Homo sapiens: one gene and its partners. The protein of the gene in region 1 interacts with the protein of each later gene in a pairwise test. Each region holds a gene or a part of one and is shown on either strand. Other genes may lie near its edges.

Region 1 (3,621 bases):
GCCCTCTGCTCTATGGTACCAACCTCTTTTGCCAGGTCACCTTCTTTGGCTCCTAATTTAAACAGTTGGAATTAATTGCTGTTATTCAAATGGGCATTTGGTCGTACTGCTTCTTTCTCTCGCCTTCAAACTGGAATACCCTATCTTTTATATCCTCATAAAAATTCTATCCTTCCTTCAAGGCCCATCTCATGTCACATCCTGATTCATCTGTTAGTGCTCTGATTTGAATTCCTGTAGTATTTTGTATCTTAATTATAGCACTCAGTATCTCATCTTGTATGCTTATCGTATTCTAGATAGCTATTTCAGATGAGGGCGGCAAACACTGTGTGTAGGGGCAATCAAATATTTGTCAAATTGTCAGGACCTTTCTTGTGTTGCCTTAACTACACTATTGTTAGCTATAATTTGGGGTTGATGAATTTTAAAACAAACCCTGAATGAAATTTGTGTCCTGCCAAACCTTTAGGATATACCTGCTTATGGCTTTTGGATGTACAATTTAAGCCAAAACAGGATGGGTTACATTGGTGAAGTTTACTTTTTGCTTCTGAAATAACATCTAGAATGTTAGTTTGTAGAATAAACATTTTCTAAGAATTTTTTTACATTTTTTACCTGTAAATGCAACTCTTTTTACAATTCTTCATTTCCTTTGGAAGGAGTCCAAAACTACTTACCTGGAAGACCTTCCACCACCCCCTGAGTATGAATTGGCCCCGTCCAAGTTAGAAGAGGAAGTGGATGATGTCTTTCTCATTCGAGCTCAAGGACTGCCCTGGTCATGCACTATGGAAGATGTGCTTAACTTTTTTTCAGGTATATTTTATGTATGTTTTATTTATTTATTTTTTTTCCTTATATTGTTTCTCACAAGCAGGTATGTATGTTTTAAGTATGTAATTTTGTCTGAGTAAAAGGTAGTGCTACAAATCCATGTCAGACTACGCTGTCACCTTCCTTTTTGATGGTTGGGAACTGTCTCATTCTGGTTGGTTGCATATACCAAATGATACCATGTGTGCTGTTTGCGGTATGTAACGAATTGAAAGACTTTGGGCCAGGGGCAGTGGCTCAGGCCTGTAATCAGCAGTTTGGGAGGCCAAGGTGGAAGGATGGCTTGAGGCCAGTAGTTCCATACCACACTGGGCAACACTGTGAGACTGTCTCAATTTACATATGTATAAAGACTTTGAATGCAACAAAAGTATTTTAACGTTAAGACTGCATAGTATGGGCCAGGCGCAGTGGCTCACGCCTGTAATCCCAGCACTTTGGGAGGCCGAGGCGGGCGGATCACAAGCTCAGGAGATCGAGACCATCCTGGCTAACATAGTGAAACCCCGTCTCTACTAAAAATACAAAAATTACCCAGGCTTGTAGTCCCAGCTACTTGGGAGGCTGAGGCAGGAGAATGGTGTGAATCCGGGAGGTGGAGCTTGCAGTGAGCCGAGATGGTGCCACTGCATTCCAGCCTGGGCGACAGAGTGAGACTCTGTCTCAAAAAAAAAAAAAAATCCATCATACTATGTAGGTTTTTTTTTTTTTGAGACGGAGTCTCGCTCTGTCGCCAGGCTGGAGTGCAGTGGCATGATCTCAGCTCACTGCAAGCTCCGCCTCCCGGGTTCACACCATTCTCCTGCCTCAGCCTCCCTAGTAGCGACTGCCACCACACCCAGTTAATTTTTTGTATTTTTAGTAGAGCTGGGGTTTCACCGTGTTAGCCAGGATGATCTCAATCTCCTGACCTTGTGATCTGCCTGCCTCGGCTTCCCACAGTGCTGGGATTACAGGCGTGAGCCACCGTGCCCGGCTGGTATGATGGAATACTACGTAGCCATAACAAAGAGTGAGATTATGTGCTTTGCAGCAATGTGGGTGGTGCTGGAGACCATTATCCTAAGCAAACTAACATGGAACATTAAACTTAATACTGTATGTTTTCACTTACAAGTGGGAGCTAAACAATGAGAACACATGGACACAAAGAGGGGAACAAGAAGACACCAGGGCCAACTTGAGGGTTGGGGAGAAGATTAAAAAATACCTATCGGGTCCAAGTGCGGTGGCTCACGCCTGTAATCCCAGCACTTTGGGAGGCCGAGGCGGGCGGATCACGAGGTCAGGAGATCGAGACCATCCTGGCTAACATGTTGAAACCCCATCTCTCCTAAAAATACAAAAAAAATTAGCCGGGCGTGGTGGCACGCTCCCGTAGTCCCAGCTACCTGGGAGGCTGAGGCAGGAGAATCGCTTGAATCTGGGAGGCGGAGGTTGCAGTGAGCTGAGTTCACACCACTGTACTCCAGCCGTGGTGACAGAGAGAGACTCTGTCTCAAAAAGAAAAATAAAACCTATTGGGTACTGTGCTTGCTACCTGGGTAACTAAATTATCTGTATACCGAACTCCCATAACACATGGTTTACCTATGTAGCAGTCCTATACATGTACTAAATAAAAGTTGAAAAACAAAATTACATGGTTTGAAATTATTTTTCTCTGTGGTATTAATATATACATATCAAAAAGTCAAGCCTGTCAGTGGAAATATGGAATTAAGGGTGACTCTTTATGTAATACAGACATTTACAATAGAAGGTCACTTAGTATCAAGGAATAAAGTTCCCTTAATAACATGTTTGGAGGGTTTACATATCTGTGGGATTTTTTTTTTTAGTTTCTGTATCTGACTATGATTTATTTTTATTAATTTTTTTGAGATGGAGTCTTGCTCTGTCACCCAGGCTGGAGTGCAGTAGCGCAATCTCGGCTCATTGCAACCTCCACCTCCCGGGTTCAAGGGATTCTCCTGCCTCAGCCTCCTGAGTTGGTGGGACAGCAGGCACCTATCACCATGCCCGGCTAATTTTTGTATTTTTAGTAGAGACAGGGTTTTGCCGTGTTGGCCAGGTTGGTCTCAAACTCCTGACCTCAGGTGATCCACCACCTTGGCCTCCCAAAGGGCTGGGATTACAGGCATGAACCACCATGCCTGGCTATTTCATTAATTTTTTTAGCTGCTCCTTGTGGAGCAGGAGTAAATCCTAGGCAGTATGCCCAGAGTGAGCCTGGTCAAACTTTTTTTTAAAGCCACTTGGCCACTTACATCTTGGACTACTCCCATTATAAAAAGTATGCAGTATGAAAAGGGGAAAAAGGCTGGGTGTGGTGGCTGATGCCTGTAATCCCAGCACTTTGGGAGACTAAGGTGGGAGGATTACTTAAGCCCAAGAGTTCAAGACCAGCCTGTGCAACAAAATGAGACCGCCTCTCTACAAAAACAAAAAGTTAAACTATGGTAATAAAATTACTCATACAGGAAATATTTTAGAGACCTATGGAGATGATTTTAAAGGAAGACACTTATGTATAAATTTAACTATATTGTATTTCCTTAAGTGATTGTAGAAACATTGCAATAGAAATAATGAATTTTGTGTTGGGCCTATCCTGATTTGCTATTTAATGATCAGGAAGGAGATCATAAGCTTCTGTGCTAAGGTTTGCTTATCTTTTCTACTTGGAAGGTTTTAGAGACTAAATCCTTATTGGTGTTTGGATGACTTCAGTGATGGGGATTTGTGTAAGGAATATGACACTTGTTTCCTGCTTTGTTG
Region 2 (3,981 bases), on another chromosome or scaffold:
CTGTGCAGACTTGGCTCTTCCTGGGGCCGGCGATGCTGAGCCCACAGGCAGGCTTGGCTTCTGCTCTGAAACCACAAGGCACTCAGATCTGCAGCCCCTGAACTTCCCCCAGAGACAGGGAAGTGACTGCTGGAGGGGAGGGCTCATCGGGGCCATCGGAGGAGGCTTCCTGCTGTGAGCGCGGTGTCCGCCCCACGCCTGGCCCCAAGCCTCAGTTTGCCCCTTGTTCCTACCCCCAGTGTGTACGTTAGGATCAGCTGGGGAGCTCTGACAACCCCCAGACCCGGGTCAGGAACCCAGAGGCTGTGGCTTAACTGGGCTTGGAAAGGCCTGGCCAGCAGCAGTTTTAAAACACCGAGTTTGGAGATGTACAAGCCCCTTTGAACTCTGACACTCCAAGATCCTAAAAACTGTCCCAAACAGCTCAGAGCCTGCGCCACAGTGGACACCTTGTTGCCTTCCTTGTTTTGAGCTCAGCCTCACTGTGCCTAGAACTAGGACTTCCCGACCTCCCTTCCCAAGGCAGGGCTGACCCTAGGTCACCGGAGGCTCCTGGCGGGCTCTCACCAGCTCTGGCCCGGCACCGCCCCCAAGGCTCCAGGAAAGAAAACTCCAAGCGTCAAAACCGTGGTTGGCTCCAGCTTCCCCAGCTTCCCCTCCTGACTTTGGTGTCTGCTGCCAGAGTGACAAAAGCCATCCTCGCACCCGGCCCGCAGGAGATCAGGAACGCTGCCGACACGGGGCTGGCTGTCTCGGAAAGTCTCTTAGGAAGCACCGAGGTCGCTGCTCTCGCAGGCCAGGGCCTCTTCCAGCGCTCCTGAATCTACCTGGGCGGGGCGACTCCCTGCACAGCCGGCGGCCGGGATGACACACTTCGCCGTCGGAGCCTGCGCCCTGGGCCCCTCACCTGTGGCGTGGCGGCTGAGTCAGGCACAGCCTGTGCCTCAGGTTCTGCCGTCCCTGCTGGTGGAGGCGGCCGTAAACACAGGGTGAGCAACACTGAAGTGCCCCAAGCTTAAGCAACACCGAGGGAGGCCAGGGAAGGCTGCTCACCTGGGTTCCCCCTTCCACCCCTGCCGGGAGGCGGGAGCACGGAATCCCAGAGGAGAGGACGAGACGGCCGACCAGGGGGCACATTTCACAACGCCCCCACCAAGACCTTCTCTCTGCCCCTTTGTCCCCCGCCGCCTGGAAATCGGCTTAGGCGGGTTCGCTTCCACCCGGAGTGCGGCTGGGCCTTTTGTTCAGGCGCCTTTTACAAAAGGAGCCCTCTTTCCATTTGGTGGCCCCGCTTTTTGTTTCCAAACCCCAACCTGTGTGGCCGCTACCCCTCAGGCCCCAGATAAGGCACCGCAGCGGGGAGCAAGGGTTTAGTGTGTTTTAAACGCACTTTGTACAAAGGCTAGTTTGTAAGAGCCAAACCGACTCAACTCCGGCTGGCATCCACCGCCCAGCTGGGAACCCGGCAGGTGCTCCCCCACCGCCAGCACGCTGCCCTCGGAACTCAGACGGGCACTGCGGCCAGGCCCCCGGCCCACCACGTGGAAAGGGCGCAGCCTCCACTCCCCCATCTAATGAGGGTGTCGCGGTGTCCCTTCCCCCCATCTGGGAACCCCCTCCCTATGGCCTGCGCCTCGAGTCTCCACCGCACATTTCTAAGTGCCCCCCTGGTCCCCCACCCGGCGCTGGGGAGGGGAGGCGGAAAGCTGGGGGTGGGCGGGCGCAGGGAGGGTGAGCTCCACTCCCGCTCCGCCTCCATGAAGGGAATTTAATTAGCCTGCTAGAGAGGCGGGCGGGCGGCCGAGGAGGTGTCTCTGGTGCTGCAATATAATTGAATCGGCTCCACTCGGTCGGGCCACTCGCCGCCCATCAGCGCGGCCGCAGGGCCCGGGAGGGCTGGGGGCGGGGAGGCGCATCCAGGCGGAGCAGGAAGGGCCGGGGAGGGAAAAAGGCCAGTGCGGGTGGGGGGCGGCGGATGTGCAATCCCTCTCCCACCTCCGAGGCTGGGGCAGCCATCTTCTGCGGGGGGGAGGGGAGGGGCAGGGAGCCGCTCCGCCGGGGGTGGGGGGAGAGAGAGGAGAGAAGCGGCCGAGCCCGGGGCGCGCCCTTCCTCGGGAAGCAGGGCGTGGGGGTCACAAACCCGGCAGGCTGCGGTCCCGCCCTCCCGACCAACTCCCCCGAGACAAGGGGTCGGGGAGGGGGAGGGGAGCAAGACAAGAACCCTAACCGGCGCGGCCCCAGTAGCGAGCACCCCCCCCCCCCACACCCCCGCTTCCTCGGCCGTCGCCAGCACCTGCCGCGGGGGCGCACAGCCACCCCCATTCGCTCCCTCCCGCGTCGCCGCAAAGTTTTCATTCCAGCTCTCCAGCGCCCGCAGCTCTCGGAGACTCCCCCCGCCACCCCCATCCCCCCACTTTACCTGCCCTCTAGCCCGCACGCACTTAAACGCACCCCCCCCATCCCCCGCTGAGCGCACTCCTGAGCCCGGAGCCCCCGAGTCCCCGCCCGCAGCCAGGCCTCCCAGGCTGCGACCCGCGGGCGGAGGAAGGGGGTGGCCTTTGGTCGCCTGCCCGCCCTCCCGGCTCTTATCGCCGCTAACACTCCGGGGAAGTTGCCCGGGAGCCGTTGGCGGCCGCCCCCGCGAAACCCGCGAACTTGCAGGAGGACAGTGCGGTGGGGGGAGGGGGGAGGACCCCGTCCCCGGCCGGGTGCGGCGCGCTCACCTTTCATGCCAGGGCCCCGCAGCTCCACCTCGGCTGATACATGCTGGAGCCACCGTCGCCCAGTGTTTGTCTAAACTGCTTATCTCACCCGGGGCTGCTCGGCGGCGGCAGCTCGGGCCCGCTGGGGAGGTGGAGCTTCCGGGGCCCCGGCCAAGAAACACCTGCTGCTGTCGCCGCCGAGGACACACCCAAACGCAACGCCGCCCACTCCCGGGCCACTGGCTCGCTCCCGGCTCCCTGACCTCAGCCAGCGGGAGGTGTCGGGTTTCAGCCGCAAACACACAGGCGCGCGCGCGCGCACCGACGGGCGCCCGGATCCACCCGCCCAGGCACACGCCCCTCCCCGGCCCGGCCGGCCAGGTGAGCCGGGGACACCAGCGGGGCCGCGGAGGTGCCACCCCCACACTCTCGGGAGCCCCTGGCTGGACTGCTCGGGGGTCCCGGGGACCTTGGTGGCTAAGACCGGCCACTTAACTCTTAAAGTAGTGCAGCACCCTCGCCACGTGAGCGGAGCCCTGTCTCGCAGCTGCGTCCCGGGAACCTAGAACAGTGCCTGACACAGAGCAGGCCCAATAATGGGCGGACGGGTAACTCCGTGTCCTGGAGGCCTTTTGGAGAACAACTTTCTGGGCGCTGGTGGCGCGTGGGGTGGGGGGAGGCGACACAAAACAGACTGTGTACCCAAGCCCCACCCCCCCCATGCCTGACCTTATTACCCCAACTAGAAAAGGCTGAATACTAAGAACTTGGCCTCAAAATTCCATAAGGCACCCCACCCCCCAGTTTTAAGTAACTTTTGGGAAGGCCACAATTGCGGGCCGCTGCGGGGGGTGTTCTTTAAAGAACCCGCGGCCCAGGGGCTGGAGAACCCACGGAGGCGCCGCTTCGCCAGGGGGATCATTAAGTAGCTGGGGTTGCGGTCAGAGGCGAGGTCGCCCGCCTCCAGAAACTGGCACGACCCATTGCGCTTCTGGCCCCAGCGCAGCGCCTCCCCATTCCTGGCACCCCCCACCCTACCTCACCCAGGCACTTGACTGGAATGACTCAGGGAGCGTCCTGAAATTCCTGGGCACCCACAGGCGGCGCGGAGAGGGACTGAAGGCCCCAGCCTTCCCACCCCCCGGCTCCGCCCACCCCGCCCCGCCCCGCCCCGCCCCCACCCCATCGCGGCGGGCGCGTCCCCAGGAAGCTCGGGGTTAAAGGGGCGGGCCTCGGGGGCAGGGGTCGGCGAGCCTCCCCTGCCGCCTTCTGGCGCCCT
Region 3 (3,621 bases), on another chromosome or scaffold:
CGTTTTCCTCAAGTGAGTCAAGTGCCAGATGACGCAGCAGCTGGTGCTTCTCTCCTGTGTGCTTCCACAGGACCGGCCTCTGTGGTTTGCTGTTTCCCACTGTCATTAGCTGAATGCATGTCTCCTTCACTACGTGGTGATACTGCAGGAACAGGCACCCTGTGTGAATTCATTTATGATCCCTTAGCATAGAGCTGTGTCACTATGGGTGGGATGAATACTGTGAGTGTTCAAATAACTGAGAATAAAACACTCTAACCTATGAAAGTCATGAAGTATCTGGTATGCACTGCTGCTGTCAAGGGTTAACCAAATTTTATATAGCCCTTAGTTACCACTTGTTAACCCATTTATGCCTAGTGTTCCATTACTGGAACGCTAAGCTTGTGGGATTTATATTCTACTGCTCAAGGTCATTGCCAAGGCCTGATTTTTCACACAAAAAATTCGCAACCTCTGGCACAAACGGGTTAAAAACTGGAGTATTTTGAAAAACAGTATTCTTCAGCACATATTTAAAACACTATAAAATTACTGCATATAGCATCCACTTTAGTAGTCAAAAAACAAAAACAAAATCAATCAAAATCTTCAATAACAGAAAAGGATAAGGCACAGCGCTACAAGCTTTGGATCTCTTGGTTGTAACATAGTCAAATGGTCGCATGTTAGGATTATATTAACAGGGCACTGCTGTTGCTTTATTACTTTTTAAAAATAGCTTTTTGGAACTGAAAAAATACAACTTAACCACTAAGGAAGTAAAAAAATCACTCATAGTATGGCTCTCTCTCTCTCTCTCTCTCTCTCTCCAGACATATGGATAATGAGGGCATGGGAACCTTCCTCCTCATTCCCTGCCACTTCCTCCTGTTTCCCTATCACAGGAGGAAACTCCTGTTAAGTTTGGTGGATGCACACAGACATCTCAAAACAGGATTTCCTATCTCATCAAGCTAAAGTAATTATAGCTCTAAATTACACTTCAAGAGGAGTTTATAAATTTGATAAATGCATAAACTGTTTTAGCAGTGTCAAGACAGGGCTTAGAAAGTGACCTCAATTCTTACAGTGACAAAGAAAGATGACTCTATCCACTTAAAATTCTATGCTCTGTGACCAGCCAGCAGAGCCTCTCACACAAATGACTTTGGGAGGACCATGATAGGACTGAAAAATGAAAATGGTCGGTGTTGAAGGAGTCAGGTCTCATCGTTTGCAATTCTGTCAAAATCAATGGAAGGCAGGAGATCATGGGCTAAACGCTTCTGCGTTCTTTGGTTGATTCTACCTCGAATTCTTCAACTCAAATTTGGCACAACAATAATATGAAAAATGCTGATACAATTTGTATTCTTTTCAGAAGGGGAGTGTAGAATAGCAGCTGGTTCTACCATCATATACATGACCTCATCTGTAAAACAAATTATAGTATCTTTCTCACAGAACTATTGTATTAAATGAATATATGCAAAACTCTTAGAATACTGCCTAAAACACAGTTAACTACAGAGGTGTAAGTTCATACAACTTCATAATAGAGATAGTATTTTCTTAAAAGAACAGCTAACAGCAGCTGATTACTCAAAAATTATGCAGTGATTTTTATTTTGGGGGCTCAGCTCAATAGCAGGTAGCATAAAATGGTTTGGGGGACAGGTGACCAAAGAACAGAAATCCTTTAAAAAAAAAAAGGTCTTTAAACAATTCTAAACTCAAAAGGTCTTACAACAACTTGATTTCAAACCTAAAACAATCACCACCACCAACAAAAAAAAGGTAAATTTTCACCCTCTTTTTTTTTGGAGAGAGAGTCACCCTACCGCCCAGGCTGGAGTGCAGTGGCGCTATCTCGGCTGACTGCAACCTCTGCCTCCCGGGTTCTAGCAATTCTCCTGCCCCAGCCTCCCTAGTAGCTGGGATTACAGGCGTACATCACGCCCAGCTAATTTTTTGTATCTTTAGTAGAGATGGGGTTTCACCATCTTGGCCAGGCTGGTCTCAAACTCCTGACCTCGTGATCCACCCGCCTTGGCCTCCCAAAGTGCTGGGATTATAGGCGTGAGCCACCACACCCGGCCTTGCCCTAACTCTTAAAACTTTCAATGATGAATAAAGTGGCAGGGAGTCATTTTGAGGCATAAAAAAATTCTGTACAAACTTTTCATTTAACGCTTAACCAAAACAAAATAAGGCCAGGGTGGAAAATATCTTATATGGCATTATTAAGTTCAGAGATTTCTACATACTAAAGATAAGCCTGTCATGGAAATTATGAAACTCTCAACAGATGCCATAAAACAGTGAAATTATCTGATATCATACACAACACCTGATATTGCACATCATGGAAAGCTTTATTAACAAAGACCCCAGGGTTTAATCAAATATTGAAAGGAAAACAAATATGCTACCGTTAACACCCACATCCAGGAAAAGCTTATGTAAGAATTATAAGTTTTAAATAGGTGAGACTGCTTATTTTTTAACATAGAAAAATTGCAAATTTGTCAATCTTTAAGAAAGGATATAGTAAAGGCTTACCATGTGACCGTCCCAGTTTACTTAGGAATACAGAAATAGGTAATTAAAATAAATTGTGCAAACATATATTACATCAATCTGCCCAAATTATAAATTCAACGATGCATTAGGACTGTATTCAGTGCAATCAAAACATTATCAGTTACGGCTGCTGCTGCTAATGCTCATGCTCCTAAGAGAAATGTGTTGTAAAACCAGGCAGAACGGGCTGGAGAGAGACTCTCGTGGACTTGGAGGATGAATAAGCATTCCTTAATTAGCCCATCAGGTTAAGTGCAAGCATTAATGGGCCCTTCCTAAAGTCTAGCTTGACATCTTTCTCCAAACATGGCCAAGAAGAAAGTTCCATTAGCAATATTAATACAAGCTTAGTTGATCATTTTCATTCAATTAACTTCTTTCAATTAAATAGATAGCTTGACAAAAGCAGTGATAAAAGACCCAAAGGGACAGCTGATGACTCGAACTGAACATTAGTGTGCGAGAGGTCGCTGGTATTAAACGGACTGTAAATCTAGCATTCAATTTGGAAAATGCATTTCTTCTGCTCTCACTCCTTTAATGAGCAATTTTAGCTGACTAGATGTGTTTGCTGCAGAAATTTCATGGGAAGTCAAGCACCCTTTTCCTTTTCTTTTTTTCCATCCCAACAGTTACATTCTCACTGGTGGTGGTTTCCTGCCAACATTCCAGCCACAGTAACTCAAAACTTCACTTTCTGGTTAAGAACGAAGATATGTTAAAATAATTTATATACAACTAGCATTAAAAATTAATGACCTACTTTACGTTGTTAATCAATTTTTGAAAGGTTTGAAAAAACAATAAAATCTAAGAAATATTTAGTGAAAAATAAAAACATTTTAAAAACTGTATTTATATTTCATCGTGTCACAGTTAAGTAGTTAGGGCCACATAGAAAAGATGCATGTAACAAGGTTTAAAAACATGGTTTTAAGTGAGGCAAATGTAAATTAAAATGAAAGTAATTTTAGTTAATTAAATTACCTTAATTAATCAAAAGTACTAAAATTACTTTTCTTAATTAAAAAGGTATATAGGCCAGCTGCAGTGGCT
Region 4 (3,621 bases), on another chromosome or scaffold:
CTACAAATATTAATAGACAAAGTGAACTGAGTAGTGCCCACTCCATCTGCAAAGTACAGCTTATCACATACTGGCATTATAAAGTAAGGAACATAACCCTTACTAGTCAATGGTCTTCCCCATCTGCTATCAACTGGCAATGGCAGCTGTGGAAGGAACTGAAAAGGACCAGACTAGTGCATACAAGAACTTTACCTATAATGTCAGCTTGAGAATGAAACTGAGTAGGAATGCAGGAATTACTGAATATAATTATGTTTCTAGTCAGTTCTGTTGTACAGTTAGTATCAGAAGGAAAGCTCTTCAAAAAGAGCAACCCTATATATTTTCTTCTGCAGCTGCCAGCCTGACCCTGAAAGGAGAAAGAGAAGAAACACAGAAAGAAGAAAAAAGGGAGAATAGAATAGTAAAATGATCAAAGTCATTGTTAACTAAATGTTGGTAGTCTATGAATTCTCAAGGTTAGCTAAACCAGCAAATTTAAATGTGGATTACCATTGTTTGTGTATCACTAATACAATGAACTACAATTATACTGATTAATGGTCATGTTACATTATAAAAGTCAAGACCTGTATTTTGCTTGGTAAAAAAATAAATGAATTGTATGTTAGGAATTTTACATTTGGTTTCTAGAATCTATCTCTGGTCCTAGAAAGTAGTCTTCTTAGTTTTCACTTCATATTTTAAAGCGGTAAACATTTGAATTTTTAAATGCTATTCATTTCCAAATTAGCATGGTCACTGACTGCGTTGGGGTTTCTTCAAATGATGTGTGTTCATACACAGCATTCGCGACTTTTTTTCCACATCAAGCCATAATAGCAGTAATTGTGCAACAAAATATCTTCCTATCCCTGCAGTACCTTATGCTTTAAATTTCCTAAAACAAAAACAATTCAATTTACAAGCACACAAACTATAAATCTGGCAATACAAAATAAGCATTAATCTGTAAAAACATTAAGTCGAATTGGTACAATGACTTCTTTACAACTATTACACAAAGTCTTACCTTTAACATTTTGAAACAGATAACATAAAATTATATGAAAACCAACAAATCAATCTTATAAATGTGTACATTCAAAAAACAAAGACCCTACACCATTTCTTTTAAGAAAAAGTAAAAAGCATTATCAGATTTCACCATATTAAAACATTCTAGGCAAGGCGCAGTGGCTCATGCCTATAACCCCAGCACTCTGGGAGGCCGAGGTGGGCGGATCACTTGAGGTCAGGAGTTCAACACCAGCCTGGCCAACATGGTGAAACCCCGTCTCTACTAAAAACACAAAAATTAGCCTGGTATCGTGGCACATGCCTGTAGTCCCAACTACTCGGGAGGCTGAGTCAGCAGTGGGCTGAGATCATGCCACTGCACTCTAGCCTGTGCAACAGAGCAAGACTCTGTCTTAAAAAAAAAAGAAAATTCTAGTTACAGGAAATCTCTCTTGATAATCAACTAAATTCTTACCTCAGTCATTAGCCATTGTTTCTGCTTGAGTCCAATATCTAAATGTTGTGTTTCATCCAAAATTTCATCTAAGGTTAGAGGATGCGTATCTCCTCGCTGATGCCGTGTCTATCAAGTGAAGAAATTGTTATTAGAAGACAGTTTCAAAATGCTAGATGCATTAAATCATAGTTACATGTAAACAAACCTTCAGGAATGAAAAACATGTATTATTCCAGGTAGCATAATTATAGTGACGAAGAGCCATAGACCATGAAATCAGAATGGGGTTGAAACTCATTGCTCTATAAAATCAAAAGACAAACTGACAAAAAAATATATGCAACTCGTATCACCAAGAGCTATATTCTTCCTAACATTTCAAGAGCTTCAAAAAACTAACAAAATAGACCAGGCACAGTGGCTCATGGCTGTAATCCCAGCACTCTGGGGGACTAAGGCAGGTGGGATCACTTCAGGTCAGGTGTTCGAGACCAGCCTGGCCAACATGGTGAAACCCCATGTCTACTAAAAATATAAAAATCAGCCGTGCATGGTGGTGCATGCTTGTAATCCCAGCTACTTGGGAGGCTGAGGCAGGAGAATCGCTTGAACCTGGGAAGAGGAGGCTGCAGTGAGCTGAGATCATGCCACTGCACTCCAGCCTGGGAGGCAAGAGCAAGACTCTGTCTTGAAAAAACACAAAACTAACAGAAAATGACCCAAAGACAGAAACGCGCAGATTGCAAAAAATGACCTTAAACATAGGAAAAGACACTCAACTTTCACCAAACAATCCTATTTCTAGAAACTTATCCTACAGAAATACCAGTACCACACAGAAAAGTGACTTATGGTCACTGTAGCATTGTTCATAAAAGGAAAATATTAGAAATAACCCAAGCGTCCATATTAGAAGACAGATTAACTACAGCACATCCATTCCACTACACAGATGTTCACAAAGTAAATGTAAAAGTTCTCTATGTGCTAATTTGAAAAGATGTCCAAGACAAATTAATAAGTTAAAAAACATATGTATCATGCCTATCCAAAGAAAACACACACACACACGTAGATACCAAAAGCTAGAGAGGATGCAAAGGAACAGGAGCTGTCATTCATTACTGGTGAGTATGCTAAATGGTACAGCTACTGTGGAAGACAGTTCAGCAGTTTCTTACAACACTAAACACACTCTTACCATTTGATCAATCTAGCAATCACGATCCTTGGTATTTACCCAAATGAGCCAAAAAATTATGTACATACAAAAATCCACTAAGGATGCTTATTACAGCTTTATCCATAATTGCCAAAAGCTGGAAGCAACCAAGATGTCCTTCAGTAGGTGAGTGGGTAAATAAACCGTGGTATATCCAGACGATGGAATACTATCCAGTGCTAAAACGAAATGAGCTATCAAGCTATGAAAAAAACATGGAGAAACCTTAAATACATATTACTAAGGGAAAGAAGCCAATCTGAAAAGGATACATACTGTATGGCTCCAACTGTTGACATTCCGGAAAAGGCAAAAACCATGGAGACAATAAAAAGTTTAGTGGCTGCAGGCCAGATGCAGTGGTTCACACCTGTAATCCCAGCACTTTGGGAAAACGAAGCAGGCCACAAGGTAAGGAGATCGAGACCATCCTGGCCAACATGGTGAAATCCCATCTCTACTAAAATACAAAAAATTAGCCAGGCGTGGTAGCGGGTGCCTGTAGTCTCAGCTACTCGGGAGGCTGAGGCAGGGGAATCACTTGAACCTGGGAGGCGGAGGTTGCAGTGAGCCAAGATCAAGCCATTGCATTCCAGCCTGGCAACAGAGCAAGACTCTGTTTTAAAAATAAATAAATAATTTTAAAAATTAAAAATTAAAAAAAGTTTAGTGGCTGCCAAGGGTTGAGGGGAGAGGATGAACAAGCAGAGCCCTGAGAATTTTTAGGGCAGTGAAAATACTCAGGAGGATACTAGAGTGGTGGACATAGGTCATTATACACTTGTCCAAACCCACAGAAAGAACACCACTAAGGGTGAACTCATGTAAACTATGGACTTTGAGTGGTAATTTGTCAACGTAGGTTCATTGACTGTCACAAATGTACTCTTCTGGTGCAGGATGTTGATAGTGGAGGAAGCTGTGGGGGGATGGGCAGGGA

Evidence for each region.
Region 2: the proteins of GRSF1 (region 1) and GSE1 interact in a two-hybrid assay, tested with the Homo sapiens proteins (one study listed by BioGRID).
Region 3: the proteins of GRSF1 (region 1) and UBE3C interact in a two-hybrid assay, tested with the Homo sapiens proteins (one study listed by BioGRID).
Region 4: the proteins of GRSF1 (region 1) and GTF2E2 interact in a two-hybrid assay, tested with the Homo sapiens proteins (one study listed by BioGRID).

Annotation. Positions count from the first base shown.
Region 1 is NC_000004.12:70,833,359-70,836,979, reverse strand, and holds part of GRSF1 (G-rich sequence factor 1), read left to right. Parts: intron 1-665; coding exon 666-822; intron 823-3,621. UniProt on the Homo sapiens protein: Regulator of post-transcriptional mitochondrial gene expression, required for assembly of the mitochondrial ribosome and for recruitment of mRNA and lncRNA. Binds RNAs containing the 14 base G-rich element.
Region 2 is NC_000016.10:85,612,141-85,616,121, reverse strand, and holds the start of GSE1 (genetic suppressor element 1), read right to left. Parts: upstream 2,801-3,981; 5' UTR 2,731-2,800; coding exon 2,724-2,730; exon of another isoform or gene 2,294-2,723; intron 592-2,293; exon of another isoform or gene 568-591; intron 549-567; exon of another isoform or gene 1-548.
Region 3 is NC_000007.14:157,208,359-157,211,979, reverse strand, and holds part of UBE3C (ubiquitin-protein ligase E3C), read right to left. Parts: intron 1-3,621. UniProt on the Homo sapiens protein: E3 ubiquitin-protein ligase that specifically catalyzes 'Lys-29'- and 'Lys-48'-linked polyubiquitin chains.
Region 4 is NC_000008.11:30,613,131-30,616,751, forward strand, and holds part of GTF2E2 (transcription initiation factor IIE subunit beta), read right to left. Parts: intron 1,586-3,621; coding exon 1,478-1,585; intron 1-1,477. UniProt on the Homo sapiens protein: Recruits TFIIH to the initiation complex and stimulates the RNA polymerase II C-terminal domain kinase and DNA-dependent ATPase activities of TFIIH. Both TFIIH and TFIIE are required for promoter clearance by RNA polymerase.